Regions from separate parts of the Homo sapiens genome. Here all the other regions are reported to be linked to region 4. Evidence: microRNA targets listed by miRTarBase, many of them from high-throughput screens and not tested one by one. Region 4 holds a microRNA gene; each other region holds the end of a gene's coding sequence.

Region 1 (8,124 bases), not on the chromosome of region 4:
CCCAAAACTGCTTCTATATATAGAAATTTCCAGAAACTTAGGCCAACTGTTGTATCCAAAAAGGACTACAGGGAATCAACTTGAAGGTCTCTACTTCAACAGCTTGATTGAAGTCTTTAGTTATTAAAACACCTAGACCTCCAAATCTGTTAGTTTGATATGCTCAGAAGTGTTAGAGGAATAAGAGCATCTGATTTTTCTTTCAGACTTACAGAAACTGGAACTCAAGTTAAAAACCCAACGTTTGTAGAATGGCAGCAGAGTCACCTGGTAGCAGGTTGCTCTTTGTGGAATAGAGGATGAAGCATATTTTGAAGAAATCAGTACAAAATTCTTCGTGGGATAGGTAGCAAGGGGCCACAGTCTTAACATCCCATGGATAAGTAGAAGATGGGAATGGCAAGTCTTTCTTAGCTACCAAATTCGTAATGTACTGTTGCCCAGATACTAGCATTTACACATTGAGCCAGTCTACCTGGCAGTAGCCAATAAGATGAACGTGGCAGAAGCATATGGGCAAAACTGCTGAGAACTTGTCTACAAGAAGCCAGATTCATCTTTCTCATAGGCGGGTGGTAATGTGACCCCATATTCTCCTCGCCACCTTAAAAAATACTCAACAGCTCATTGTGATTTTCTGGATAAACTCTAGACTTGCTAGTGCGTCATACAGGCTCTGAGGCTGTTCCCAGTCTGGTCACCACCTAACTCTCGTTTCTTCACTCAAACTTGACGGCTTTCACTAGCATAGCCACCTTTTAATGTAATGTAGTATTTGTTTGCCAAAGAATACATGTTACATGCATGTACATTATCAAGCATACCATAAAATGGAAGACACCTATTAAACTGTCATCCTACTTAAGACCTAGAACATTCCTAATGCTCTCAGTACCTGGCCAGCCCCTCCTTGTTTTCTGTCACCTTTCCATTTCAGATTGGGTTAGGTGGTCCCCTTTGCTGCTTCTGATGGCACCAGTACTTGTTCCTACCACTGCTCTTCTCGCTGTGTCTTAACTCCTTTCTTGTTACTACCCCCCACTGGAGTGTAAGCTCCTTTGGGTTAGGAATTGAGGTTTAACTTCAGTGCTTGATACAGAGTTAAATGCTGTAGGATAGGTGGTCCCCTACCTTACCTCTCCTTTTTTTAAAGTATACGGTCCAGTGGTTTCACAGAGCTGTACAACCATTACCACAATTAATTTCAGAACATTTTATCACCCCAAAAAGAAACGCCATACCCATCAGCAGCCACTCCCCATTGTCCTCTATCCTCCTTAGAGTTGATATCATCAGGCCAAATCCTAAGTTCAGGTGGGAGAGCCATTATTCCTTTGCTGTTCCCAACTCCACATCCAGCATGGGGAGATGCAACCCAGGACACAGTAACTTGAACCAATGGAAATGAGCTGTCCTTATGACTAGCTTCTGTGTTTTCTAAGGGAGTAGAAGAGAACTTTATTTCTGAGAATAAGTAGGCAAAGAGTACAGGAAGGCCCAGGAATGAGGCTTCGTGGGCTCAGATCCTAACACTTCAATTTGTTAGCTGTATGATTTGAGGAAAGTCACCTAATCTCCCAAAGCCTCTATTTCTAATAAAAATATAGATAATAATTCTTGCTTTAATCCCACAGGGTAATATATTTGAAAATATTTCAGAAATAATAATGTGCCATCCAGTGTAAGGAAGGGGTTATTATTTTATTTGTTACATGACTCACGAGTACATGAGAGCTCATTAAAAGGTGAATGATAGCCCGTCGGTGTGTAGAGAGACTTAGAAAAGCTGTAGTCCCATGCCCTCCATTTTTGAAGGGAAAATTGAGGTTCACAGAGGTTAAGACTCATTAGTGACTAAACCAGGACTGGAAGCCGTGCAACTCCCAGCTTCTGATCTAGGATTATTTCCACTGTGCTCTCCTGCCTCACTCTCCCACACAAACTAATTTTTGGGGTTGGGCTTTAAGGTAAAACCAGCGTACAACACTAACTAGAGGTGGTTGATTGGTAGAGATGTGGAAGCAGAGCCATACTTGTTCAATTAAAAAAAGATTTTAGAATCACAGCAGAATGACTGAAGGGCAGGATTAAACTCAACAGTTTGCATTTTTAAATCTAAAATGTTTATCTTATCAGTAAATTTGGCTGCCTTCCCTTCCCCCTCTGCGTCTCCAGACAGAAGCCGATTATTGGGTTTGATTTTCGGTATTAGGTGCCTCTTGTACTATTGCTGAACAACCAGCAGAGAGAAGGTGATCCCATTGACGCAGATGTCTCATCAGCCACATACCATGAGGTCCTTGAACAACCAAGACCTTCTGGTTCTAATATTATAATGCAGAAAACCCATAGAAAGGTAGTTAGCGGTTCCCTCAGTGTAGCAGAGCCATGCGGTGAGTCATTTAAAGCTGCAGGTAAGCCAAAAGCAATTCTTTTCAGCTTTGGAACATACTTAAGGCTTCTGCGCAGGCTCGCTCTCATCAGATTTCTAACCTTTCTAAATAACAAGGCCATACTGTGAAGACTGTAAACTCTGGAAGTGACTAAAAATGTGGTCAGGCTTCTGCCTTGCACCTGTCAGTCCTTAAACCTTTTTGGAACACCAGACTCCAGGCTCAGCATAACCATGCTTTCAAAGCTGTCACTGGAAGACAGAAAGTGAAGATTTTCTTTTAAGAGTCCATCTAGTGTGAATTCGAAATTCAGATATCTTCTTTTTTAACTGCTGTAGTGTCAGTAAAACACTTGGCAGATAATAGGTTCCCAGGAGTTCTCAAAATAAGTCTGAGTGATTGGGGTAATCGGCTGCTCCTTTGGTCCCTGGCTTTGTGACTTAGGAATACCTCGTTCTCTTCCCCTGATCCCATGCCCTGTTCCAACTGGGCCCTGTAAGGTGTGTGTTCTCCCGCAGGTGGCTGGAGAGCGATACGTCTACAAATTTGTCTGTGACCCAGATGCCCTCTTCTCCATGGCTTTCCCGGATAACCAGCGTCCGTTCCTGAAGGCAGAGTCCGAGTGCCACCTCAGCGAGGAGGACACCCTGCCGCTGACCCACTTTGAAGACAGCCCCGCTTACCTCCTGGACATGGACCGCTGCAGCAGCCTCCCCTATGCCGAAGGCTTTGCTTACTAAGTTTCTGAGTGGCGGAGTGGCCAAACCCTAGAGCTAGCAGTTCCCATTCAGGCAAACAAGGGCAGTGGTTTTGTTTGTGTTTTTGGTTGTTCCTAAAGCTTGCCCTTTGAGTATTATCTGGAGAACCCAAGCTGTCTCTGGATTGGCACCCTTAAAGACAGATACATTGGCTGGGGAGTGGGAACAGGGAGGGGCAGAAAACCACCAAAAGGCCAGTGCCTCAACTCTTGATTCTGATGAGGTTTCTGGGAAGAGATCAAAATGGAGTCTCCTTACCATGGACAATACATGCAAAGCAATATCTTGTTCAGGTTAGTACCCGCAAAACGGGACATAGTATGTGACAATCTGCATCGATCATGGACTACTAAATGCCTTTACATAGAAGGGCTCTGATTTGCACAATTTGTTGAAAAATCACAAACCCATAGAAAAGTAAGTAGGCTAAGTTGGGGAGGCTCAAACCATTAAGGGTTAAAAATACATCTTAAACATTGGAAAGCTCTTCTAGCTGAATCTGAAATATTACCCCTTGTCTAGAAAAAGGGGGGCAGTCAGAACAGCTGTTCCCCACTCCGTGGTTCTCAAAATCATAAACCATGGCTACTCTTGGGAACCACCCGGCCATGTGGTCGCCAAGTAGAGCAAGCCCCCTTTCTCTTCCCAATCACGTGGCTGAGTGTGGATGACTTTTATTTTAGGAGAAGGGCGATTAACACTTTTGACAGTATTTTGTTTTGCCCTGATTTGGGGGATTGTTTTGTTTTGGTGGTTGTTTTGGAAAAACAGTTTATAAACTGATTTTTGTAGTTTTGGTATTTAAAGCAAAAAAACGAAAAACAAAAAACAAAAACAAACCTTTTGGTAACTGTGCACTGTGTCCTTTAGCCAGGGCCGTGCCAACTTATGAAGACACTGCAGCTTGAGAGGGGCTTTGCTGAGGCTTCCCCTTGGCCATGTGAAAGCCCGCCTTGTTGCCTGCTTTGTGCTTTCTGCACCAGACAACCTGATGGAACATTTGCACCTGAGTTGTACATTTTTGAAGTGTGCAGGGCAGCCTGGACACAAGCTTAGATTCTCTATGTATAGTTCCCCGTGTTCACTAACATGCCCTCTCTGGAAAGCATATGTATATAACATGTGTCATGTCCTTTGGAAACCTGGTCACCTGGTGAAAACCCTTGGGATTCTTCCCTGGGCATGACTGATGACAATTTCCATTTCATCAGTTTGTTTTGTTTTCCTTTTTCTTTAAATCTTGGACTTTAAACCCTACCTGTGTGATTCAGTAGGGTTTGAGACTTACGTGTGATACTGACAGGTAAGCAACAGTGCTAGCATTCTAGATTCCTGCCTTTTTTTAAAAAGAAATTATTCTCATTGCTGTATTATATTGGAAAAGTTTTAAACAACCAAGCTAAAGCTATGTGAAAGTTGAGCTCAAAGTAGAGGAAAAGTTACTGGTGGTACCTTGCTGCCTGCTCTGCTGGTAGAATTCTGTGCTCCCCGTGACACTTAGTACATTAAGAATGACTACACTGTTCCTCGTATGTGAAGGAGGCAGTGCTGACTCCGTGAGTGTGAGACACGTGCTTTGAACTGCTTTTCTATTCATGGAGCACTCCATAGTCTCAAACTGTCCCCCTTATGACCAACAGCACATTTGTGAAGAGGTTCGCAGGGATAAGGGGTGCACTTTATAGCTATGGAAACATGAGATTCTCCTCTATTGGAAGCTAATTAGCCCACAAAGGTGGTAAACCTGTAGATTGGGCCTTAATTAGCATTGTACTCTAATCAAAGGACTCTTTCTAAACCATATTTATAGCTTTCTTAACCTACACATAGTCTATACATAGATGCATATTTTACCCCCAGCTGGCTAGAGATTTATTTGTTGTAAATGCTGTATAGATTTGGTTTTCCTTTCTTTACTTACCCTGGTTTGGATTTTTTTTTTTTTTCTTTTGAATGGATTTATGCTGTCTTAGCAATATGACAATAATCCTCTGTAGCTTGAGCTACCCCTCCCCTGCTGTAACTTACGTGACCTGTGCTGTCACTGGGCATAGGACAGCGGCATCACGGTTGCATTCCCATTGGACTCATGCACCTCCCGGATGGTTTTTGTTTTTTTCGGGGGTTCTTTGGGGTTTGTTTGTTTGCTTCTTTTCCAGAGTGTGGAAAGTCTACAGTGCAGAAAGGCTTGAACCTGCCAGCTGATTTGAAATACTTTCCCCTGCGCAGGGCCGTATGCATCCTGCCAAGCTGCGTTATATTCTGTACTGTGTACAATAAAGAAGTTTGCTTTTCGTTTACCAAGCACCCGAACCTGCCTCTTTCTTGCCCTCATTGGTCTAATTTTAAAGCAGGCAAAAGCCCCCTGGCTTTCTCTCCGCCCCCGCCCTAGCCCTCTCAACAATTTAGCCTTACCAATGGACAGTGGCATCGAGGGTAGTTAGGGAACTCTGTTACCTGGAAATAGATGTGCACAGCTCCTCTTAAACTCCAGCTAAAAATTTAATCCAAAGAGGTGGAAAGTCGAGAGATCCTCTTCCCAGCCAATGGTGAGCTGAGATCACCTCATCCCCTTGAGCCCACCAAGCCACCAATTCTTAGTAACTCTTTTTTTAAGTGTAGCCCATGTTTCGCTTTGGGTTGTGTGAAAAGATTACAAAGCAGTCTAGGACTTTCGAGTCCCAGAATTATCCTCAGCCCCTTATGTGGATACTTTGAAAACCAGTAAGAACTTAAGACCATTCATTTTCTAATTTTTCCCCAATAAGTTTTGCTCTTGACAAGTGAAAAATCAATTAATGGTTGATAAATAACGAAAAAAGCTCAGGAAGGTTTTGCCCACTATGTTTTTTTCTGGCCGTGCAGCAGTAAAAACCTCCTCCTCCAAGTTTGTCTCTTTCTCGTGAATATGTATCACTCGGGAAATACGTGGAAGGAAATAAAGTTCGCCGGGTTGTATTGCGGTGTTATTACGGTTATTACGGTTTCTAGTGCTCTTATTTCACCCTTTTTCTGCACCTCTAATTTGGCCTTCTCAAGACTCCTATTACAGTGGAGAAATAAAGTAGAGCCTTTTTTCAAGCCTAGAACAGAAGGCTTTCTGTCAGTTTATCTGCTATCTTTCTTTACTGTTTTACAAGCCTCTAAGTGTAGAAACATCGAGACTGAATGAGTGCACCGCCTCTTGAATTGGAGCTTGTGAGGAATGAATGTCTGCCACATAAACCCCATTAGCTTCGACAGATTAAGAAAAGATGCTTGGGGAGAAGGGGCAAGGGTGCGCAGGAAAAAGCCGTCTCTGCCTCTCAGCTTCACCATGATAAGGCTTTAACAATCCGCTCCCCATTATTCACGGGCTCGTTATCCAGCCTGGGCCCGGACCCAGATCGTTAACCTAACGCAGGAGGTCACCAAACACTGCCGCCCTTCTAGTGTTGGGCGCTAGGATAAGGAAGCTCAGAGAATGGGAAGTTTACTCTGCATCAGGGTCCCCTTTCATGAGCCAAGCCAGGGAAACAATGCGTATTCAGTTGTTAGATGACAAAGAGGTAGTGTGAGCGCAGAAGAATGTGGTTTTGAGAGCCAGAGTATGTGCAGAATCTAAATTCTAATGCAGCTGGGACAAATGTAAACTAATGTGGAAGAAAAACACTAATGTACCCAGACGGTTGGAAACTTTGGAGAGACCGTTCATTGCCCAGCGGTGCAGGTGGCTGCTACTCAATGTGTGGCCTCTGAAATACAAGAGAAAGGAAAAAAGTCCAGAAGATCATCAGTTTAATACAAATGCATAGTGTAAGTATTGTTTAGTACAAATACATAGTGTAAGTATTCTATTCAACATAAGTGTATTGTACTTAAAATAGGGGGAGGGTGTGAGGGTGGTACCAGGCGAGCGGCTATGTCCTTTTGATCCCGGCAAGTACACTGGTGTCCCATTCAGAAGGGGCCCTTTGAATGACCAGCCTTAGCTCCTCCAACTTTAAGAGCTGGCTCTACACCCAAGCCTGGGTTTGTTGACCTTGGCAGTGAACCTCAGGTAACCTTTGGGTAGCACTTTACACAGCACTTTTTCATCTCCATTATCTTTTTGGCAGGCTTTCTGAAATGGTAATACTGTTGAAATTGAGTCTGAAAATACCATGGCTGTTAGCCTCCAAAATTAATTTCTTTTTTGGAATTTTCACAGTGGCTACTGTGGAAAGAGGACTAGTCCCTTGGAGCCTAGACATTTGGGTTCTGGCCCCAGGTCAGTGGTTGATTGGGTTTAACTAAATGGTCTCAGGGGACCATCTGGCCTAACCTCCTAGGTTCATTGAGGGCACTGATGAAGTACTACTCCCCGATCTCATAGGCAGTAAGGGAGAAAGAAAGGAGTTTCCTAGGGGAGTCAAGGAATGTGTGTGCGTGTGTAGGAGAGTTAACAGTTAAGAACATCATTCTCAAGTCACCATTTTTAAGCAAGCTCTGAAGATGGCTCAGTTCCACCATTAATGGCACATTTCTTCTTTTTCAATCATCCACTGAGCACCTGCTAGGTGCCAGGCACTGCTGGATGCTAAACATAAATGATTTAGGTGGCATTTTCAAGCTAAAGCCCTGTTTGTGGTATAGTAATTGTGTGACAACCTCTTACATGTTTAAGTGCTATACTTTCCAGGTAATACTTAAACACCACTGACACCATCTTATCCAGACTATGTTGACCAGAAGCTGGGGAGGCTGGGGCATTTATCCTCCAACTCCTGCCCTTATTGGTTGAAGGTTATCCCCAGAGATGTTAACTCTTCAATATATATCCTATCAGGAAGAGAAGAGTGTAGATGCAGATAATCAGTGTGCTAGGAACTGTTTTCAGATGCAGTTAGCTTAGGGGGTTGAGGGCACATGGAGCTGGCATCAGTGATGTCTGTGACACCTACCTTTAACAATTAGCCGGACTCTCCTGGATGACCTGTTTCCTAGAGTGAAAC
Region 2 (8,124 bases), not on the chromosome of region 4:
ATGTTCGGGCAGTTGTTAACTGTTTCGCTAAAGTAATAATTGGTCACAGCCGGTGCCAGGGAAAGGCAGTCTCCTAATAGAAAACACTTGAAACTATCAGCCGCTTCCCAGTAAGATCTCAGCAGTGGGGAGAAGTAATGCAAGATCCTGGAAGTAGGCCAATGGATAAAACACCCAAGTCAAGAGATCAAGCTGCATGCTTGGTTTCTCAAGTCGCCTGCTTGGTCCACTTCCAATTGCACTTTCCTTCTTTCCTTTCCTTACTGCTCTAAAGCTTTTCTTTTTTTGAGATGGAGTCTTGCTCTGTTGCCCAGGCTGGTGTGCAGTGATATGATCTCAGCTCATTGCAACCTCCGCTTCCCAGGTTCAAGCGATTCTCGTGCCTCAGCCTCCTGACTCCTAGCTGGGATTACAGGCACGTGCAACCATGCCCGGCTAATTTTTTTTTTTTTTTGGAACAGTCTCTCACTCCTTCACCCAGGCTGGAGTGTAGTGGTGCAACCTCCGCCTCCCGAGTTCAAGTGCTTCTCCTGCCCCAGCCTCCCACGTAGCTGGGATTACAAGCGTGTACCACCATGCCCAGCTCATTTTTTGTATTTTTAGTAGAGATGATGTTTTACCATGTTGGCCAGGCTGGTCCCAAGCTCCTAACCTCAGGTGATCCACCTGCCTCGGCCTCCTGAAATGTTGAGATTACAGGTGTGAGTCACTGAGCCCATCCAGCCTCTAGAGCTTTTTAATAAACTTTCACTCCTGCTCTTAAACTTGCCTCGATCTCTTCTTCTGCCTTATGCCCCAGTTGAATTTTTCTGAGGAGGCAAGAACTGAGGTTGCTGCAGATCTGTATAGGTTTGCCACCAGTAACTTGGATACCTTCCACTGGTAACACCTTGACCTACCTCCCAAGCTCAAGCGATCCTCCCGCCTGAGCCCACCAAATAGCTGGGATCACAGCTGCGCACCACCATGCCCGGCTACCTTTTTTTAGGGACAGGGTCTCCCTGTATTGCCCAGGCTGGCACACACTTTTCTTTATAGCTACTGTCATCATCTTTCGATCACACTGATGTTCTTCACTTTGTCTCTTGCAATAGCTTCCCACTGATTCACCACACAGTGGCTAGAGTGCCCTTTTAACAGATCACAGTACCGTGGCCCTCCTTAAAGCCCTTCCAAGGATTCCCACTGAATTGGACACAAAATTCAAACTCCCTAAAGGCCTTCTGTGGCCTCGTCCCTGCCCTCTGTCCATCTCTCTGCCCCTGGTCTGTCCACAATGGACGCTCTTTAGGCTTCAAGAAGTGATCTCTGCCTTCAGATCACTTCTTCAGAGAGAACTTCCTGAGAGCTGCCTCCTCTCCATCGTAAATGTCTCTCCTGTTACTTTCTCTCACAGAATTCAGTTCTTTCCACCATAGCATTTGCCACAATCCGTAATTACACATCTGATCATGTGTGTATTTATTTGCTTTCCTTCTCACTGGGTTGCTTCCAGAAAGCAGCTGGGATCGTGTTTCTCATCCCTGCGCACAGAGCGCCTGGCTCAGGGGCAGGCACAGAGAGGGTGCTCTCTAAGTACTCGCTGAATGAATCCACTGTCTTCTCTTCTCCTCACAGTCGTCTCCTGCCTCAAACGCAGGTCTAGCAGAAAGGCTCTTTTGGTGAGAATACCTTCACCCCCGGCAAAAAAAAAAAAAAAAAAAAAAAAAAAAAAAAAGAAATACCAAAAATTTAAATTTTATGAAAACCCGAAGACTTTGTTTTACAAACATATAAATTATTTTATTTACAAAGCCATGTTACAAAAAAAAAAAAAGCAAAAAAAAAAAAAAAATACAATTGCTTACTGGAGAATATTTCCAGGCCTGGTGAGGAACCATGGCAGTATCAATAGATACATGTTTGTTCTTTCCTTTTAAAACTGTAAGCCATAGAATTTACTATTTACACCTACTTTAGACATTTATTCTGCTTACAATATCACAGGCATGGAATGAACTCTATCTGATAGTGCTAATACATAGAGGTGCGGGACGAAGAAGGAAAATACTTAGTGTTACAAAATATGGATTGTAGAAAAGAAACCCACTCCACAAGTGTGGCATTTGTTTAGAATGATCGGACATGCTTTCTTCAAAATTTTTCTGGAAAAGGTTCTAAAATTGGTAGTAGGAAAGGACAAATGAGCAGGTGCAAATTCTTGTCTGTGCAACAACAGTTATTTAATATACCCCATGACTGACCAGCTACGTAAAACCCACAGAGTTTTGTTAAAGTGCCATGGGCCGACAGCATAACAAAATATAAGGTGTAAATAGAAAATTTCTTTTTTTCCTTTTTTAAAACAAGAGTTCACTGAGAATCAGCAATAATAGAATATGCTGTATAAACTATTCTCTACAAAGGTTGATCAGCATTATTTACAATTGGTACATTGATACAAAAGAAGGCATACAAGTTATCCAAGTCGCTTTTTTTTTTTTTTTTTTTTTTTTATGGCTGACAGGTCTATGCATTGCGTTATGCTTCACAACCAGAGCTTTCGAGCCTCTATGGCTGGCGACAAGTCAGGAGATCTTCAGGCAAAGAGGGGTGTGTGCAGTCAAGGGGCTGGGAGAGAAGACTGAGTGGGTGTGCAGAACAGAAGGACCCAGAGGACATCACCCTAAAAATGTTTTATAGGCTGCTCCAGTTTAACTCCATTAAGACAAACCCAAAGAGAACCTTTTATTTGCATTCCATTTTTCAAGCTGCAAGTTTTTAATACATCATTGTAAAGTAAACCTGTGGTTGACTGCCAAGGAAGAATACTGTGGGCTTTCCCTTTTTGCCCAGTTTTCCAGAAATATCCTCACCTTGGTCATAGCCAGTCTTTTGACAAAGTAAGCAGCATTCGATGAGGGTGGGGGGGGGGGTGGGGGCTCTTTATTCCAGCTTCCAATTCAAGATGTAGAGAGCTACAATGTCTAAACCTATTGAATTGCTCCTTTAGTCCTTGAGACATTATTTCTCAGAAGCAGCCACTTAATCTCTCAACCTTTGTTTTCCCTCTTTGACTATAAGAGTTTATAAATCAGAGGGTTATTTTGTTGTGGAGATTTTGTTTTTTGTTTTTACTCCTGCAAGTTTTACAACTCAAAATAAATTATAAAAAACAACAGACCTCTGAAACCGAACAAGACAAAATTGTGCAAAAATAACAAAGATATGTACATACTTTTCAGTCTGAAGAAATGTACAATAAAAACATAATTCAAAGAACATTTTAAAAATATAAACATTGCTTAAACTTTCCTAAGTTTCATATTGTTTCTGAAACTATTCTGGTCAGTTAGCTCTGTAATATAGTAAAACATAAATTATTACAAAATTAACACTATAAAAATTTACTTTAAGAATATCTTCTAAACTTTTTTTCAAAGGGTCTAACCTTGTTTATAATTTCTTAAACATTTATAAGTCTTAAAATCTCCTTAACCTTTTTTTTTTAAAAAAAGAAAAAGTAACAATCATCCCTTCAATTTGCAGTCTCTTTTCCCAAGACGTAAATAAACCAGCATATAAGTGCACTTTTAACACTGTAGAAATAAAAATGAAATCATCCGAACTAATGTCCTGGTACTTAATATCAACTCCTGATTTTTAAACAAATCATTTTATATTAAAAAATTTAGTAATCCTATAAGAAACACTCACTGTCAGTGCAATTCCATTGATGAAAATCACTCCATTTGCCTCCCGTCTTTGCAATTCCAATTGTGTGGTGAAACTTAACAGTAGTCTGATCTTTGGGTTGGGGGAACGGGAAAGAAAAGGAAAACTTTGGGGTGGGGATGAGGGTTCTGCCCAGCTATGAAACTAGCATTCATTTCTGATTTAAGGATGAAACAAAACCTCCCAGTATCTTTGCTATACATCATATACAAAGTTACATGATTAATAGCACAGAACACCTATTTTATGTTGTGAATTCCTTTCCTGATTATGATTCCCTACTAGAGCTTATGGTATTGCTGTTTCTTTTAAAACTCCAGTGTGAATAGTTCTATGGCTGCAGGGCTCCAGCGTGGCTCTTCCAAATGGCTGTTCTTCACTGAGCAGTGGCTGTCCTTACCATTCCTTCATGGGGATGGCTGTCTCTAAGACAGCAAAAGCTGATCCATGGGTGTGCTGATCCCACCAAGTCCCTGTGGCCCAGGGCATGGGGGTGGGTGGGAAATGCTATTATTTATTCTGACAAAAGGTTTGACACATACCCTTTTGTGGAAGCTCTCCCTGGGGGGCTCTTCCTAGCCCAGGAAGGCAGCCTAAGAACCTTTAGCAGCTGTGGTCACCGTGCCTCCTCATGGAGTGGCTTTCTGGGTTCTCACGACCTTTTTCCTGGGATTTCTCCCTCCTAGCTCACCCTGCTGTGGGCACTGGCACACTGATTCCTGGAAGGGATTCTGCAGATTCCTGACCAGCTCAGACCACCACAGTCTCCAGTTTTTTTAGGGATCATCTCCTACCCACCATGCTCTGCTTGCTGCCACCTTCCCAAACCTGTTCTGGCCCCTGTCCCTGACTGGTTTATCCTTTCTGAGCTGCACAGCTGGACAGTGGTATTAGGTAAACCACATCACTAAACGGCCACTGTTCTCAATCTCGCTTCTAGCATTTGGCTCCAGCCATGGTGGGCTGTGGAAACTGGATGAGGGAACCCCACCCACCCTCCAACTCTCCACTCCCAGCTCCTCCCCAGCAAAGCCCCCTCTCCCTGCACACAATCCTGAGGGGATCCTATGAGAGCCAGGTCCTTTGAAGACCAGTGAGGACCCAGAGAGTGGTAGACGTAGGGATGGAAGGAATCGGGTGGAGATGACAGGAAGAAAAAGGGCTCTGCCTGTGCTACAGTTCAAGAGCTTCAGAGCATGCCAACCTGGAACCAACATTCTGCAATGTCTGCTCTCATGGCTGGAGCAAAAGGATGGTACAGTAGCAGCATCAGGAGCTAGGGGAGTGACCCCAAATTTGGAAGAATGTAAAAACATGGCAAATGAAAGGAAAGACAGCGGAAACCAAACACTGGAACTGTTTTCTGTAAATCTCAAATTCACCTTCTTTTGCCTTTTTAACTAAAAATTGGTCAATTAAAAAAAGAAGAAGAAAGGCCAGAGTCACAGGGAGTGCACAGAAAACAGACTCTCCCCCCAGCCCACTCCCCTCCCTCCTCCTCCCCATGGCCTCCTCGGATGGGATTAGGTGGCCTGGAATTGATGTGGAAGTGGCTTCATAGTCTTGTTATGGAAGAGTCCTTATCCTGCCCGTTCTGTTTGTGTTCTTCTAGGAAAGAAAAGAAAAACTTGTTTCAAAACCATACAGTTGAGATTACCCATGAGAATTCAAGGATGGAGACTTAGTTTTCTCATCTATAATAGAAAGGACAATATCCCACCTCCCATATCCAGCAAAGGGCAGCTGGAATAGCAAGAGATGATGGATCTAAAGGACCCAATAGCAAATGAGGTGACGGATCCATGCATGTAAGGCAGTCACAGAGGTCCTCACTGTGGAGGAAAACACAAGGACGAATGCCGCGGACATTCCTGGGAGTCCTCTTTGGGAGAGTGGACAGAATAATTGATGCCTTCATTTTTGTTCTCCATTAGTTCACCTTTTCCTACCTAACCTATAGATGACACTGCAAATTATCTCAGGAAGGATTCTAGTGTTGGGTTAAACACAGAGGCTCTGGAGAGAGAGATTTTGGGTTCAAGTTACTTGGCTTCTTAGTGTAGCCATCTTCATCTGTAATCATCTTGTCCCTCACAGGGTTGTGAAAAGGTTTAAATGTGTGTAGCGTGTGTAAAGGACACAGCACGTAGCCCTCTCTCTGCAGGCAGAGAGTGCTACACAAGTGGTGGCCATTTGTGTTTGTCAGGGCTGATTGCTGGCATTTTGGGTTCCCAGCAGGTGTACCCGGAGCTATGGGCACATGCAGGCTGTGTTTGGTGAGGGTGAAGTGTAGTCTGTAGGTACACATGACAACCTCTACAAGAGGCCCCATCAACAGAGGCTGACGGCCTGAGTATAAATGTGCCTTCCCACCCCAGCACACATGAAGGGCTGCAAGTGTTCTGGCACAAAAAGGACTCAAAATGGTGAGGAGACTCTCCCTGGCCTGGGGATACAAAAACCATTTCCCCATAATCTTTACCCAAACTCTACCCAAGATTTGTGGGAAAATCCCAAAGGGCAAAATACACACACGTTGCTATTTTGTTATTTGGTGTCTACAAAACATGCGGTACATCTCAGGCAACATAACAACACGGTTATATATACACGCACACCCACACATTTTCCAATCATGTGTAAGGGGCAAAACCCCACCCCCCAATCCTTCCTGGTCCTCCCTAGACACATATGCACACACTCCATTGAGAAAATCATTTATCACAGGTGTACACACCGACTACTCTTATACATCAAGTTTATAAAAACTACTAAGTCTACCCTGAATACTGCTGCCATGAAACTGCATCCTGAATGGTGGCTGCAGCTCATCAGAGGCTTTTGAGAGAGTGCTGATGGACAGACACCATGGGCAAGGCCTCCCCCTCCTCTTTTTTTTTTTGAGACAAAGTCTCACTCTATTGCCCAGGCTGGAGTGCAATGGTGCGATCTTGGCTCACTGCAACCTCCATCTCCCGGGTTCAAGTGATTCTCCTGCCTCAGCCTCCTGAGTAGCTGGGATTACAGGTGCGCACCACCATGCCCAGCTAATTTTGCATTTTTAGTAGAGACGGGGTTTCACCATGTGGGCAAGGCTAGTCTCAAACTCCTGACCTCGTGATCTGCCTGCCTTGGCCTCCCAAAGTGCTGGGATTACAGGCATAAGCCACCATGCCTGGCCTAAAAAAAATTTTTTTTGAGATAGGATCTCGCTCTGTTGCCCAGGCTGGAGTGCAAGGTGCAATCACAGCTCACTGCAGCCTCAACCTCCCAGACTTCAGTGATTCTCCTGCCTCAGCTGCCTGAATAGCTGGGACTACAGGCATCTGCTGCCATGCCTGGCTATTTAAAATTTTTGTAGAGATAGGGTCTCACCATGTTCCTTAGGCTGGTCTCAAACTACTGGGCTCAAACCATCCTCCTGCCTCGGCCTCCCAAAGTGCTGGGATTATAGGTGAGGCATCATGCCTGGCTGGCAAGTCCCTTTTTTACAATTTTTTTCTTGAGACACAGTCTCACTCTGTCACCCAGGCTGGAGTGCAGTGGTGCAATCTCAGCTCACTGCAACCTCCACCTCCCTGGTTCAAGCAATTCTCCTGCCTCAGCCTCCCGAGTAGCTGGGACTACAGGAACGCACCACCACGCCCGGTTACTTTTTGTATTTTTTAGTGGAGATGGTGTTTCACTATATTGGCCAGGCTGGTCTCGAACTCCTGACCTTGTGATCTACCTGCCTCAGCCTCCCAAAGTGTTGGGACTACAGGCATGAGCCACCATGCCCGGCCGCAAGTCCCTTTAATCAAATCATCTTCTTTAATTTTCACAATAGCCTTAGGAGGGAAGCATTAATTTTGCCTTTTAACGAATGAAAAAAACTGAGACTCAGAGAGGTAATGTGCGTACGCTCATACAGCTGGTAATAATAGCTAACACTTGTGGGTTTACTGTGTGCCAGGCATTTTCTAGTGGCTTTACATGAATAGGCTAATCCTCACAAAAGCCATAAAAGGTAGGGGCCAGTATGATCCCCACTTTATAGACAGAGGAAATGGAAGCACAGAGAAGTTAAGTAACTTGCCCAAGGGCACACAGCTAACTAGAAGGCCTAGGTTTGGAAGCCAGGTAGCCATGCTCTTAACTGGAGATGAGGTTTGAATCAGGGTCTGACCCCAGTGTCCAAACTCTTTCCACTCTGCTGATGACCATATGAATTTTTGCCCCACCCCCACCCTCAGTAACTTACCTGTCGGCTGTGTCCTGGGCTGGATATACTTGAAGGACTGGATTGTGACAAAGCTAGGCTGCTATTTTTCCCAACCTGAAAGACACCATTGAAGCCCCACTCAGACACACGAGCCAGCCTGGGAAGGGCCCGCCGATGCCACATGTTCTAGGGGAAAGAAGGGCTGC
Region 3 (7,845 bases), not on the chromosome of region 4:
TTTCTTAAGCCTGAAACCTATTTCAAGAGCTAAAAGAGCCAGGTGTGATGGGTTACACCTGTAATCCCAGCACTTTGGGAGACCGAGGAGTAGGATCCCATGATGTTAGGAGTTTGAGACCAGCCTGGGCAATAAGACTCCATTTCTACCAAAAAAAAAATTTTTTTTAAAAAAGAAAAATGTAGATAACTTTTATTTGTTAAATAAAACCAATGTAATTGCTAGTTTAAATGTAAGTTGCTTGGATTGCTTGCTCTTTGTATATTTGAACAGAAGCTAGTGTATTTAATGGGAAAGGCCTTTTAAAATGGCAAAAGGATGATTGTTTACTTTGCTGATATTCAGACAGCCCTGAAATGATTCATTAAAAAGCCTACCTCTTTATTTGCCATGGTCTTTGCCCTTCTAAGCATTTACTCTGTAGCTCTGCATAGCAGTAATCTGATGATCAGCAGGGATTTATTTCATATTTTGATTATTTATGCAAACACATTCATTTAGCTAAAAATAATGAAATATGAGGAAGGTCTCTTTTCCCAAATAGAATTCTGAACTGTGCATTCTTAATGATTTTATGTTCAGTAATAAAGCCACATGTACTAGCATGCAGCAAAAAAGTTTTGGAACTGTATGGTACTTGTGGTCATGAAATATGCAACATGTATATAGAAGACTGATAAAAATAATCACTTTAGCTATGTCCCTCATCTAGTTAAGCGGCTTAGCCTGCCAGACATTTCTTTATTAAATATTTTTCAATAGGGGCTAATAAATATTTTAACTAGTCTCTTAATTTAAATATGACTGCCATATGTGTTTTATACTTAAGTCACCCTGACTTAAGTAAAAGCTGATAAAGCTTGATTTTTTCACTTCAGCAAGGCTGCTTAAGTTTAGGGATTCAGAGCTTTCACAGACTCAAAACCTAGTGGTTTTGAAAATTTTAAAAACTTGGGTTTTAAGGGGAGAAAATTTATCTGAATTAATAATTTTCCCTAATTGTTTTTAAGAGTACCTGTAAACATTCTAAGCTTCTGGTATTCAAAATCTGATAGATTGGTGCCCTGGGTGTGGAAAACCTGAACAAAGGCAGAAATAACTGAAAGATCAGTGAGCTTTTGTGCTTATACACTGATCCTAATATAGACATTTAGAGCTGGAGAGGATGGTTGGAGAGTCTCCAGTCTTGGCCCTCTTTGTTTAGCCACAAAATTTTGGGTGAGCAAGGATAGTGTGGCATGACCATCACACAGAGTGTCAACTCTAGAGACCCCTGCCTTTGTTTGTACTCTGCCTCCAATTACAAGTATAAGATTTGCAGAAGATTAAATTCCTAAATTTTGTCAGGAAACCTGACAGTTAATTGACACTTTAGCTGGATAAAATACAGAGGTAAGATGGCAGAGTTGAGTAGTTACAATATTGATTGATTTTTGTCTTGGTTTGGAAAGCCTAAAATATTTATGATATGGCCCTTTAAGAAAATGTTTGGTGACTCTTGCTCTAGTCCATTAAATAATCTAGATTTGGGTAGGACCAAAGTGACCAAGAAAGAAAAACCTGAAAAATACCAATTAATTATAATAACAGGACTTTTGAATATAAAAGAATGAGGTTTTAAAAATTTTGATGTACCCCTTATTAATTAGCAGGATATTTCACTTCTTTGAGAGTAGCCACTCTCTTAACTCATGATCAATTATGAATTTTATATTTAAAGAATCTGGTCATAATAATTGACAAAAATCTAGATTTTGATTTGTCAAGCTCCTGAGTATCTGCTGTGAGTAAGGCTGTCTCTCTACAAAGGCAATACGGGGAAAATGTTCTAAGTCTTTACTTTGGGGTCTCATGAAGTTGGCATATCCTCAAGATAGAACGATCAAGAGCAGATTTCATAAAGAACTGTTTCCCAAGGCCATGTTGCTTTTTTTCTGGTCTCTGTGCCGCATGTGAAGCCGGTGGAGACTGCTCTTTCCTCCTCCTCCTCAATTACCAGTTATTCGTTAAAATGAGAAACTTCCTCCTCCTTCCCCTCACACCCTGGCCAACATTGCAAAATGTTATATAAATGAATTCATATAGTTTGCAACCTTTTGTACCTTCTTAAAAACAAATTAGTGTATTTTGGATATAGATCTGCCTTTTTAATTTCATGTCTGCATAGTATTCCATTTTATAGGCATACTTTAATCAATATTGATGGGCTGTTTATAGCAAAAATTTGTAACTATGAAATTACAGTATCAGAATGTATGAATGAATTTTGATAGGTATTTCCAATTTTTTCTCAGAAAAGAGTGTTTCTAATGTGCAAAAGTTCTTATTTTTGTATAAGAATGCCTATTTCCCCATACCACCAGCAACATGGTATATCATAGAACATTTTACTTTGCCAGTCAGTTTTTTTAATCACCACTAGTCATTTTTTTCAATTTTTGCAGTTGCTGGGTGTTATATTTGGGCTAAGTGAAGTTTAATTCTCATGCCTTGAATATTGCAAGAGAGTATTTCATTGCAAGAAATAATGTTGGAGATAAAATATTTGTGTAATGTTTCCAAGTATGTTGTTGGAATGTTTCAAAAATCAATGGAATTTCAGTATAGCAGGCCTTTGGAAATGAGCCTGTAATAGTTAATGGTGAGGATAAGAAATTATTATGTAGAGCTTAATATTCTTAAGCAGACTGATTCCCAAGCATGAGTAGAATTTTATCAAGTTTATTTGTTTTAAAATCAATACAAGTTGATTTCATTGAAATAAACAAATTGGGAAAGAAATACTTATTTCAGACCTCATTTTGAGAATGCTGGCTTCTCTAATAGAAGTTAACCAATTGAAAGGAGTGTGGGGAGGTGGGGGTGGGAAGAGAGATTTTTTTTCCCTTAGCAAACCAGTCATTTCTGAGCTTAGCATTTTTATTGCTCAATTTAACATTGCCTGAGAACATAATTGCATTTGAGTTTATAGCTGTTCTAACAATGTTTTGATGTACAGAGAACAGAAATGTATTTCTCTAGGAATTAGGTACTTCATCGGTCTAGAATTGACTTAAATTGTTTAGTAAACTTTAAATAATATTCACCTCTTAAGTGTGTTTAAGGTGCTTTGCAAATGGTGAAATGGTGCAAATGGTGCAAGTGGTGAAATAGTGAAACTGATGGATTTGAGCAGGAAATATATATCCCGAATGGGCAGAATATAGGTTAATGTGAGGGTAGAAATTGGAGTGGGTGACTTTATACCATGGAGAATTCAGATTGAGGACATCCTTATGTGTATGTGTGTCTTAGTAGTGGTTAATCTTCCACTTCAAACTTTGAGAGTCTGTTTATGGATTGGGTACATTTTGCGGAAATTAGATTGACCCCCAAATGTACAGAGGACCCTGTCTTTTAAAATCAAATAACTGAGGCTTTTCCTCATCAATGAGAAGTTAGAACAGCAAATTATCTCACAAAAAAATTATATTTTGGGAGAAGGTAGGTCAAAAATTCTAGAATCATTTTCTCTTTAATCCAGCTTAATCCTTTTGCTTATCCAAAATAACATGGCATGACTTTATTACTATTCCAATATGCTACCACAGAAGGTTTAGGACTTATTGAAATAAAATGATGACGGAAGAGTGACCTTTCAAAAGTAATATGTATGTAATACCACAGAACCGTGGATTTCAAAAATAGTGAATGTGAAGGAAACAAAAAACCTTCCAACTACATTTTTTTTGGCATCAGAATTTGTTTTCTACCATAGGGCTATTCACATACTGAATTTCGTTTTCCAAAAACCAAAAGACCTGAAAAGACCACTATTAAACACACACATTCTTGCTCATTCTACTCCCCAGGCCTTTGCTGTCCAGAATGGTAGCCACTAGCCACATGTGTCTACATTTAAATTAATTTAAATAAAATTAAAAGTGCAACTCAGTTGCAGTAACTATATTTCAGGTGCTCAGTAGTCACATGAGGCCACATGACAGTGCATATGTGGTATGTCTCCATCGCTGCAGAAAGTTCTTTCGGACAGCACTCGCTAGACTAGTAGTGGGGATGCCAAATAAGAGAGACTTGATTCCCTGCTGGCTTTACGAAGAGTTCCTGGGAGGGAAGCTGAAGCTTAGGACTTAGTTCCTTAAAAAATAATGTACTCATAAGAAATTCCTTCTATCACTGTTGTTACTGCCTTTTTGATGATTTGAAGTCATTGAACTTTGAAACAGCTCTTTTACCAACAAAGAAATACACACCTGCCATGAGAGGGTTTTCAGCCTTTTTTCCCCATTGTTGTTTTCTTTCAACAGCTGCTGGGCATGCTGTGTGCTTGCATCGTGTTGTGCAGAAGGAGTAGAGATCCTGCTTACGAGCTCCTCATCACTGGCGGAACCTATGCATAGTTGACAACTCAAGCCTGAGCTTTTTGGTCTTGTTCTGATTTGGAAGGTGAATTGAGCAGGTCTGCTGCTGTTGGCCTCTGGAGTTCATTTAGTTAAAGCACATGTACACTGGTGTTGGACAGAGCAGCTTGGCTTTTCATGTGCCCACCTACTTACCTACTACCTGCGACTTTCTTTTTCCTTGTTCTAGCTGACTCTTCATGCCCCTAAGATTTTAAGTACGATGGTGAACGTTCTAATTTCAGAACCAATTGCGAGTCATGTAGTGTGGTAGAATTAAAGGAGGACACGAGCCTGCTTCTGTTACCTCCAAGTGGTAACAGGACTGATGCCGAAATGTCACCAGGTCCTTTCAGTCTTCACAGTGGAGAACTCTTGGCCAAAGGTTTTTGCGGGGAGGAGGAGGAAACCAGCTTTCTGGTTAAGGTTAACACCAGATGGTGCCCCTCATTGGTGTCCTTTTAAAAAATATTTACTGTAGTCCAATAAGATAGCAGCTGTACAAAATGACTAAAATAGATTGTAGGATCATATGGCGTATATCTTGGTTCATCTTCAAAATCAGAGACTGAGCTTTGAAACTAGTGGTTTTTAATCAAAGTTGGCTTTATAGGAGGAGTATAATGTATGCACTACTGTTTTAAAAGAATTAGTGTGAGTGTGTTTTTGTATGAATGAGCCCATTCATGGTAAGTCTTAAGCTTGTTGGAAATAATGTACCCATGTAGACTAGCAAAATAGTATGTAGATGTGATCTCAGTTGTAAATAGAAAAATCTAATTCAATAAACTCTGTATCAGCCCCCAACATATTATTTTTCATTATTTGGGGGATATTTCAGTTCCAGAGCAGCAGTATCATGTTTTCTTTGTTGGTGCTGTCTATAGTTCATCATGGTTTACGTGTGTTTTCGTTATAGCTGTTGCCAGATTCTAAAGGGCTTGATATTCAAAAAACCACAGATGCTTTCAGTCCAGTATATCCTAGAAATATAGAGCTCTACTTTGTGCAATGCACTGGGGATACAGTGGCGATACTGTCCTTGTCTTCAAGGAGTTCGGAGTCCTAGTATAGGAGACATACATAGGAGAAGATAATTTTCACACTGCAGTGGTTGTAGTAATAGAATGGGAGTCCAAAGGGGAGTTCCGGAGAGGTCAGGGGTGACTTCCTGGAGGAGATGCCCAAGCTTGGAGGCTGGATAGGCTTTGTTGAAAGATGGTACACAAGAGTGTGAAACAAAATTGTGTGTGCAGGGAGCTTAAAATACAAGGCTGGGGAAAGAAGTTGGAGAAGCAGGAAAGCCCAGGCCCTCTAGTGTCTTACGGAACATCCTGTGGAGGTGAGAGCTGACTTGTAGGTGGAAGCAGCTCTTTGGAGGTTTGATTTGGAAGGTGAACTGAGAAGAAGGTGGTGATGCAAGCCGGCCGTGCTGAAGCCAGGATGAATTGGTGTGACTGGGCTTCAGTTAGGCTGGCATAGCAGTTGAGAGAGCTTAGCAGTGGGCAGCAGGGCACTGTTGGGGGCGGTGGTGAGCGGTGGATTCTGGCTGTTTGGAGGCAGGACAGTGGTGGAATTCGATCATTGATTGGACGTGGGACAGAGAAGGGAGAAGAGAAGACTCATCTAGGATGAGTCCCAGGTTTCTGGCTCAGTCAACTGGGGAAACAAAGTCACAGAGCTAGGGAGTAGTTAGAGAACACATCTGGGGGTGTGACTCATGGTCAGTTTTGGGCTCGTCAGTTTTGAGATGCCCAAATATCATGCAGATCTGTCCCACCTGAAAATGGAGAAGACACGGGAAAGGAGAGGAGTAAAAACTAACTCCTTTTCACAAAGTGGAAGTTACCAGAATGTGATTTCAGAGGCCCCGGGGGATTTATCATGTGACTACTGACCCATCCCACCTCTTGCCCCTGCCTGTTGCACAGTGGGCAAGAATGTTTGTGACCTTTCACTACCACCACCTCCCCCGAGCATGGTCCCCCCAGTTTTCAATATGAACCATCCTGTGGGTACCCTGTCACAGGCTGGCCCTGAGGTGAGCAATATTTGGACTGTGATGTTGGTTGTTCTCCACTCTTTCTACAGGACAGAACAGGGCCTCTAGAGTGGGAAATGGCTTTGGGAAATATGCCAAGCAGTAGCCTTGTTCTTCAACTTGCCCAAGAGGATAATTCTCCACACCCTTCCTGTACTCAGTCCTCAGTTTGCCTGGTGAGAGAGCAGCCTCCTCCCGTGTGCTCTGCCAGCTGGACCCAGACTGGCCATATTACCAGTGAGACCAAAAAGATGGAGGTGGGGAGGTAGCTCTGAGGTCTGGGAAACCATTCCAGCTCCTGCCAGTTTTAACTTGTGTTTAATTCCTGGCACAGTTGTCCTGGAAATGCCTTTTTCTCTTGCCTGGGAACCACTAGAAGGGGATGTTGTCTGTGTTGGCCAGGGCCATGCAAATTCAACATCTTGTTTCTGCCCTTCCCCCGTGTAGCTGAGGCTAGGTGTTGGCATTACCCAGTGCTTGTTCTTCAGAGAGCAAAAGCACTGCTCGTCATGTCTGAAATTTAGTGAGTGAGCTCACCCACTAGGCTGGTGTTTCCTGCCCGTGGCTGCACATTGGAAGCACCGGGGCACTTTGAGAACTACAGATGCCTGGGTCCCAGAGCATCTAAGGTGCTCTAGGGTGTGTCCAGGACACAGCCCTGGTTGAGGACCACTGCTATATTGTATGGCCTCTTTTAAAAAAGTTAATTTTACTTGGAAATGATTTCAAAGCTACAGAAAAGTTGCAAGAATAAAAACTGTACAAATGAGGCTCAAATATCCTTTGCCCAGATACACCTATTAACATTTCGTCCCATTCTATCTGTCATGTGTGTTCTCAAATGTGTGTGCGTTCTCTCTCCCTTGCGCCAACCCCCTGTCTCTCCCTCTCCCTCCCTCCTGCTGCCTCCACACCTGTCATGGCCTTTTACCCCTAATACCTCAGTGGGTACTTACCAAGAAGAAGATACTCTCTGACGACTGCAGTACAGTTGTCAAATTCCGTCCATCTAACACTGATAGAATACCTCACCACTCATATTCCCATTGGCCGCATCGTGTCCTCTATAGCACCTTTCCCTCTGCGGTGCTGGATCTGGTCTGGATCAGGTAATCAGTTGAGTTGTCATGTCTCCTTGGTCTTCTTTAATCTGGATCATTTCCATAGCTTTGTCTGTGATGATAGGAACAGTTTGTAAGGATACAGTTCGTTTTAGGTGGTGCTGCTTATCTGTGTTTGTCTGCGATTTCCTCGTGATTAGATTTGGTTTTGCATTCCAGGTGGCTGAACCACTACCTGCGTCACGCGGCCTCTCAGGGCATCGCATCTCGAGGCACACAATGCCCATCTGCCCCACAGTGGGGATGTTCGTTTTGATCATCTAGTCCAAGGAGGAGGAAATGT
Region 4 (8,124 bases):
AGGCAAACCCCTGGTGAGATCCAGTACCTTAAGACTGCCCTGAAAGCTCCCCTGCACAGCTGGTCCCCAACCCCATGGCCCAACTCCCAAAGGTAACCCTTTCTCTGGATTCCCCTGCCCCCACCTTAGATTAGTCCATAGATTAGTTTTGCTTGTTCTAGGATGATAAATATATAAACAGTATGTGCTTTCTTGTGTAAGGCTTCTTCCATTCAGTACAACATTTTTGGAATTCATCATGATGTTGTATGTATCAATGGTTCCTCCCCCCACCCCCCCTTTTTTTTTGAGACAGAGTCACCCAGGCTGGAGTGCAGTGGCACAATCTCAGCTCACTGCAACCTCTGCCTCCTGGATTCAAGCTGATTCTCCTGCCTCAGCCTTTCGAGTAGCTGGGATTGGAGGTGCGTGCCACCACACCTGACTATTTTTGTATTTTTAGTAGAGATGGGGTTTCACCATGTTGGCCAGGCTGGTCTCGAACTCTTGACCCCAGGTGATCCACCCACCTCGGCCTCCCAATGTGCTGGGATTACAGGTGTGAGCCACCGCGCCCAGCCGGTTCCTCCCTTTTTTATTGTGTAGTATTTCATTGTCTGAATTTACCACAGTTAGTTTATTCATTCTCCTATTGGTTGTTTTCAGCTTTCAGTTATTTATGAATAAAGCTATGGACATTTTTGAACAAGCCTCTTTGAGGACATATGCTTTTATTTCTCCCGGGTGAGTAACCTAGGTGTGGAATTGCCAGGTCATAATGTAGGTGCAGTCAGCCTTCCCTATCCGTGGGTTCCACATTCATGGACTCAGCAAATATTCATGAATTCAATAAAAAATCAAGGGGTGGGAGGAAAGGATGATCATGTCTGTATGGAATATGTATAGACTTTTTTCTTGTTATTATTTCCTAAACTGTATACAGTATAATTATGCTCACTATCTGAGTGATGGGATCAATTGAACTCCAAACCTCAGCATCATGCAATACACTTATATAACAAACCTGCATATGTACCACCTGAATCTAAAATGAAAGTGGAAATTATTTTTTTAAATACAGTATAACAACTGTTTACATAGTCTTCACCTTGTACTAGGTATTATAAGTAATCTAGAGATGATTTAAAGTATACAGGAGGATGTGTGTGGGTTATATGCAAGTACTACCCTGCTTTATATCAGATTCCTGAGCATCTGTGATTTTGGTACTTGCAGGGAGACCTGGAACCAGTCCCCTGCAGATACTGATGGACAACTGTATATGTTTAGTTTTAAAAGAAATTGTGGGCTGGGCATGGTGGCTCACGTCTGTAATCCTAGCACTTTGGGAAGCCGAGGTGGGCGGATCACTTGAGGTCAGGAGTTTGAAACCAGCCTGGCCAACATGGTGAAACCCTGTCTCTACTAAAAATACCAAAAAATTAGCCGGGAGTAGTGGCAGGCGCCTGTAATCCAAGCTACTCAGGAGGCTGAGGCAGGAGAATTGCTTGAACCTGGGAGGCAGAGATTGCAGCGAGCCAAGATCACGCTACTACACTCCAGCCTGGGGGACAAGAGTGAGACTCTGTCTCACAAAAAAAAAAAAAAAGTAAATTGCAAAATCCTTTTCAAGATGTATTTTTAAATCGATAAAACACTAACTTAGTATACATTTAGATTAAGAAAAACATTACTATATAGGTTGACCAATGTGATATGGTTTGGCTCCGTGTGGCCACACAAATCTCATGCAAATTGTAATTCCTAATGTTGGGGGAGGGACCTGGTGGGAGGTGATTGGCTCATGGGGGAGAATTTCCCCCTTGCTGTCCTCATGATAGTGAGTGAGTTCTCATGAGATCTGGTGGCTTAAAAGTGTGTAGCGCTTCCCCCTTTGCTCTCTCTCCTGTTGCCATGTGAAGATGTGCTTGCTTCCCCTTTGCCCCATGCCGTGACTGCAAGTGTCCTGAGGCCTCCTCAGCTGTGCTTCCTGTACAGTCTACGGAACTGAGTCAATTAAACTTCTCTTCATATATTACCCAGTCTCAGGTATTTTTTTTTTATAGCACTGTGAGAACAGACTAATACATAATGCTAAATGTCTCAACATTCTCTACTCTTTGGGTGAATATTTGCTTACGTAAGCTGTGGAGAGAAGAAAATTAACAAAGCTAGGGAAAGCTCTCTGGGCCACCATCCACTACTAGTGTTGCCTTAATTATTAATCCTACATCATTTTAGAGTTTGTACTTCAATGGCAATGCGTATTCCTCCAGGAATGGAATGCAGTTTCATCAGAACTTTCTCCTGACACGCCTTGTGGCTCTGAGTCACAGACGTTTTTCTTAAAGGGAGTGTCTTTCATCTCAGGGCCTCAAGCTGCCCGTCATTCCCCCATAGTCCAGAGATCCCCCTCCCCTGTGATCACATTCCAGCTTGCACCCTGTCTCCTCACTCCCTTTCCTTCTATTTCCTGCAGCCACTGCTGAACTACCGCATGCCAGCTCTCTGGCTTTCTAGGGTTTGCCATTTCACAAGGCTTAGCCTCAGATTTTATAAGGTTTATTGGTAAATTGCAGAATGAGAGGTTTTATCTTGTGTTACAGGAATTTCAGGCAGAAGCAAGCAGATGGCGTAACAGGCCAGTCCAAGCACAACACAATCCACAGGCCAGGGCTCAAAGCTCATGTTACCTGCCTCTACCAGGCACTGAGCTGACACCCTGGGCACACCTCTCAATCTCCCAGTCTTCCTCTTGCAGGAAAGAAAAGTTAAGCATTCCAGCAAAAGAAACTACCATCAGAGTGAACAAGCAACCTACGAAATGGGAGAAAATTTTTGCAACCTACTCATCTGACAAAGGGCTAATATCCAGAATCTACAATGAACTCAAACAAATTTACAAGAAAAAAATAAACAACCCCATCAAAAAGTGGGCGAAGGATATGAACAGACACTTCTCAAAAGAAGACATTTATGCAGCCAAAAAACACATGAAAAAATGCTCATCATCACTGGCCATCAGAGAAATGCAAATCAAAACCACAATGAGATACCATCTCACACCAGTTAGAATGGTGATCATTAAAAAGTCAGGAAACAACAGGTGCTGGAGAGGATGTGGAGAAATAGGAACACTTTTACACTGTTGGTGGGACCGTAAACTAGTTCAACCATTGTGGAAGTCAGTGTGGCGATTCCTCAGGGATCTAGAACTACAAATACCATTTGACCCAGCCATCCCATTACTGGGTATATACCCAAAGGATTATAAATCATGCTGCTATAAAGACACATGCACACGTAGGTTTATTGCGGCACTATTCACAATAGCAAAGACTTGGAACCAACCCAAATGTCCAACAATGATAGACTGGATTAAGAAAATGTGGCACATATACACCATGGAATACTATGCAGCCATAAAAAATGATGAGTTCATGTCCTTTGTAGGGACATGGATGAAACTGGAAACCATCATCCTCAGCAAACTATCACAAGGACAAAAAACCAAACACCGCATGTTCTCACTCATAGGTGGGAATTGAACAATGAGAACACATGGACACAGGAAGGGGAACATCACACTCCGGGGACTGTTGTGGGGTGGGGGGAGGGGGGAGGGATAGCATTTGGAGATATACCTAATGCTAAATGACGAGTTAATGGGTGCAGCACACCAACATGGCACATGTATACATATGTAACAAACCTGCACATTGCGCACATGTACCCTAAAACTTAAAGTATAATAATAATAAAATAAAAAACAAAATAAATAAATAAATAAACATCTAAAAAAAAGAAAAGTTAAGCATTCCAAAGTGTTCAGCTGATTTGAGCATTTTGTCCAGGACATCTGATTCCAATGTTTGAATGTGTGTGTGTGTGTGTGTGTGTGTGTATGTGTGTATATACATTTAGAGAGGGGGTCTCCCTGTGTTGTCCAGGCTGGCCTTGAACTCCTGAGTTCAAGCGTGGTAGCACACACCTGTAGTCCTAGATACTCACCCTCCTGAGTATCTAGGACTACAGGTGTATGCTACCACGCTGGAATTAAATGTGTATTTTGCATTTGTAAATTTATTGACATAAGTGACAGAGTCCAGGCATATAATAAAACTGGTGACTCTGAAGAACAAATATTTCATTTTCTTCCATTTTCTCTCGGTTCTTGCAAACTTTCCTGAAATCTTGTCTCAGCTGAGAAACATGTTCTCACCATATAGTCATGTGAAGGGTGAAACTCATCTTCCCAGTGGTCATAATGAACACAGCTCATATTGTCCAGGTCTTTTCTTCCACTAGAGGGATTTTAACTGCCCTCCACTTTATTCTCCCAATAAACTTTTAGTTAAAAAGCTTAAATGTGGCCAGGTAATGTGGCTCATGCCTGTAATCCTAGTACTTTGGGAGGCCGAGGAGGGTGGATTACCTGAGGTCAGGAGTTCGAGACCAGCCTGGCCAACACGTCGAAATCCTGACTCTACTAAAAATACAAAAATTAGCCATGCATGGTGGTGCACGCCTTTAATCCCAGCTACTCGGGAGGCTGAGGCAGAAGAATCGCTTGAACCTGGGAGGTGGAGGTTGCAGTGAGCCAAGATCACGCCATTGCACTCCAGCCTGAGAGACAGAACAAGACTCCATCTCAAAAAAAAAAAAAAAAAAAGCTTAAATGTTCTCACCACACACACATAGAAATGGTAACTGTGTGAGGTGATGGATGTGTGAATTTGAATTAGCTTGATTATGGTATCTCACCTCACAAGATAGACATATATCAAAACATTGCATTGTACACATTTTAGTTGTATATATATAGTTGCATATACATATCTATACATATCTTTTAGTTGTATATATTCAAGCTACAGGGGAGGGAAACTTTTAGCCACAAAGCAGATCCAGTTGGAAAATCTTAACATCAAATGCTAGTTTTTGCATGTAATTTTTTTCTTTAAAAAATACATGGCCATAATATAAAATTCAAAAGGCAAAATGGTAAGTTGCAAAGCTTGTCTCTCTTCCTTTCCCCTAGTCATCAGATCTTCCCAAAGACACCTATACATACTGTTACTAGGTACTTGTGTATTTCTAGACATCCCAAACTTTTCTTAACATATACAGATTATATATTCTCCTCATCACATAAATGTTAGCATACTATGAAAGAGACAGCAAGTCGCCTGTCTCAACATCCATTCTCCCACTTTCTTTCTTTGTTGATATGGGGTTTTGCTCTGCCACCCAGGCTGGAGTGCAGTGGCATGAACAAAGGCTCAGCACAGCCTTGACCTCTTGCCTCAGCCTCCTGAGTAGCTGGGACTACAGGCACGCACCATCTGGCTAATTTTTAAATTTTTGTAGAGACAGAGTTTCACCATGTTGCCCAGACTGGTCTCAAACTCCTGGGCCTAAGGGATCCTTTCACCTTGGCCTCTCAAAGTGATGGGATTACAGGAGTGAGCCACTGGCGTCTGATCTCCTCACTCTTTTTATAACAGCCGTCCAAATGTATTTGAAGCCACTCATTGCTGTCCAGCAAAAAACTGCATTTCTCAGCCTTTCTGTTAGCTAATAATGCAGGCTATGTAACTAAGTTTTCGATACTGGAGTGGAAGATACTAGAATGTAACATTTGTCAGATCTTTTGCCTTTCTGCTGGCTGGGATGTGGACGTGATGACTGGAGCTTAAGCAGCTTTCTTGGACTGTAAAACAGCCCACTTGGGATGGCAGAGCAACAAGATGGAGGAAATTAGGTCCTGAGAATGATGGAGTTCCCTTATAAGCCATGGCCCTGTCCATATCTGTTTTGTTGTTGTTGTTTTTTAGCAGTTGAAACAGCTTAAACACCATAACAAGCTCACTGTTACTTGCAGCAAAATACAATTCCTTTTTTAAACATACGTAATTTTTATTTGTCAGTTATACCTTAATGAAAAATGTAATAGTCAAAACAAATGATATATTTGGAAATTTTTAAATATACACTTATAAGTAAAGCCATGGATCAAAAAATAAGTCACACTGAAAACTAGAAAACATTTTGAATTGACAATTGTGAAAATGCCACATGCCAAATATTGTGGCATTTCACAAAATCTACTTTGAGTGAAATGTATAGCGCAAAAGCCTATAAATGCTGACATTTAAGAAGTGGGAAAACATTTTTTTTAATTAGCTAGTCATCCAAATTAGAATTAGAAAACAACAGCAAAATAAATTCAAAGATCAAAAATGAAAAATTAATGTAAGAGCAGAAGTAAATAAATACAACTAAAATTTATAATATAGAGCATTACAAAGACAAGCAGTTCTTTAAAAAGCCTAACACAATTGAAAAACCTGTAAGCAAGAGTGAAAAAGTGAAAAAAGAAAGGACACAAATAAACTATATTAAGAATGTAAGGGGGCTCGGCCCAGTGGCTCATGCCTGTAATCCCAGCATTTTGGGAGGCCAAGGCAGGAAGATCACTGGAGGTCAGGAGCTTGAGGCCAGCCTGGCCAACATGGTGAAAACCCATCTCTACTAAAATTATAAAAAAAATTAGCTGGGCGTGGTGGCATATGCCTACAGTCCTAGCTACTCGGGAAGCTGAGGCAGGAGAATGGCTTGAACCTGGGAGGCGGAGGTTGCAGTGAGCCACGATCAAGCCACTGCACTCCAGCCTGGGCCACAGAGGGAGACTCTGCTTCAAAAAACAACAAAGACAACAACAACAAAACAACAACAACAAAGAATGTAAGAGGGGCCAGGCGGGCTGGCTCACACCTGTAGTTCCAACGCTTTGGGAGGCTGAGGCAGAAGGATCACTTGAGCCCAGGAGTTTGAAACTGGTCTAGGCAACATAGTGAGACACTGTCTCTCCAAAAAAAAAAAAAGTAAGAGGGGACATAAATGTAGAAGCTGTAGACATGAAAGAGATAATAAAATTTTTCTATTTACAGGCAGTTTTATAAAAATGAATTACAAAATATAGATGAGATATGTTCTATTAAACATATAAGGTATGGTATACTACAGTAAAACACAATTCTTAACACATGTGTATACCATACCTAGTGCACTACACCTTGCTTTCTTCCTTAACAATATGTCTTGGAAATGAATCTGTAGAGTACATAGAGAACTGCCTCATTCCTTGTAATGACTGAATGTTATTCCTTTATACGACTGACCCATCATTTATTTAAATGTGTCTTATTGATAGCATTTAGACTGTTTCCAGTCTTTGCTATTATTAAAAAAGTCACGATATATAAACCCATCATTTCGCACACTTGCAACTCCATCTGTAGGATAAATTCCAACAAGTGGAGTCGCTAGGTTCAAAGGTGTGCTCATATTTATTTGGATCGATTTCACAAAGAAGCTATACCATATTACACTACTCCCATCAAAGTATAAGAATGCCTACTGCGGCCGGGCGCGGTGGCTCATGCCTGTAATCCCAGCACTTTGGGAGGCCGAGGCGGGCGGATCACGAGGTCAGGAGATGGAAACCATCCTGGCTAACACAGTGAAACCCTGTCTCTACTAAAAATACAAAAAAATTAGCCGGGCGCGGTGGCGAGTGGGCGACGGAGCGAGATTCCGTCTCAAAAAAAAAAAAAGAATGCCTATGGAGTCTCCTAAGAACAGCATCATCAAGGCCACCACATTCCAATATCTGTTGCACTTCTCTCATAAAGCTGAGCACCTTTTTCTTGCTGCATAGCCTTGTAACCAACTCTATTATAATAGAACTTGTTCCTCATCATCAGCAAGTGAGCATTTGCTAGCTTCAGATCTGAAACTTTCATTTTCCACTAGTAGGCTTCCGAAAGCAACCCTCTTGGTTCACGGATTAGGTGAGCCAGAACGCCAAATAACTTATAATTGAGAAATAAAAATAAAACTAATGCGAATGAGAATTTGTCTCCAAAAGTAGAAATTTTTCCATCAATGTCTCTCTTTCCACAACTTGCATTTGTGAAATTTAGAATGAATGTCGCAAGTAGGAAAAGACTCATTCTGTCATAGTAGAATCTTTGTGTATTTCTTAGAATACTTATTGTAGGTTTAAATTGAAAACAAAATCATCCAATTTTACACTTATTAGGGAAGAAAATAATCACAGCAACATATAAGATGTTGACA

What was found. Region 4 holds the annotated microRNA hsa-miR-5689 (AGCAUACACCUGUAGUCCUAGA, at 4,002-4,023, opposite strand). A microRNA usually pairs through its seed, bases 2 to 8, with sites in the 3' UTR of a target mRNA and lowers its output. Matches are read on the target gene's strand: a 7mer-m8 pairs with bases 2 to 8, a 7mer-A1 pairs with bases 2 to 7 and ends in A, and an 8mer does both.
Region 1: the mRNA of ETV5 is a reported target of hsa-miR-5689. Seed matches in the 3' UTR shown: 7mer-A1 at 5,385-5,391.
Region 2: the mRNA of ATXN7L1 is a reported target of hsa-miR-5689. Seed matches in the 3' UTR shown: 7mer-m8 at 2,450-2,456.
Region 3: the mRNA of TSPAN3 is a reported target of hsa-miR-5689. Seed matches in the 3' UTR shown: 8mer at 5,025-5,032.

The regions. Positions count from the first base shown.
Region 1 is chr3:186,043,648-186,051,771 of GRCh38, reverse strand. It overlaps ETV5 (ETS variant transcription factor 5), which reads left to right. Exons shown (of 13, transcript NM_004454.3): 13 at 2,912-5,458. The coding sequence ends at 3,133. Among named protein-coding and RNA genes, the nearest start is that of ETV5-AS1, 31 kb to the left of the region's middle.
Region 2 is chr7:105,602,572-105,610,695 of GRCh38, forward strand. It overlaps ATXN7L1 (ataxin 7 like 1), which reads right to left. Exons shown (of 12, transcript NM_020725.2): 11 at 7,958-8,032; 12 at 2,201-5,319. The coding sequence ends at 5,281. Among named protein-coding and RNA genes, the nearest start is that of EFCAB10, 25 kb to the left of the region's middle.
Region 3 is chr15:77,043,390-77,051,234 of GRCh38, reverse strand. It overlaps TSPAN3 (tetraspanin 3), which reads left to right. Exons shown (of 7, transcript NM_005724.6): 7 at 4,308-7,845. The coding sequence ends at 4,400. Among named protein-coding and RNA genes, the nearest start is that of TSPAN3, 24 kb to the left of the region's middle. RefSeq lists an enhancer at 6,898-7,845.
Region 4 is chr6:10,435,624-10,443,747 of GRCh38, reverse strand. It overlaps MIR5689 (microRNA 5689), which reads right to left and starts at 4,031; the gene lies at 3,954-4,031. All of the region lies in intron 1 of MIR5689HG (MIR5689 host gene), which reads right to left. RefSeq lists enhancers at 2,012-2,512, 2,513-3,013.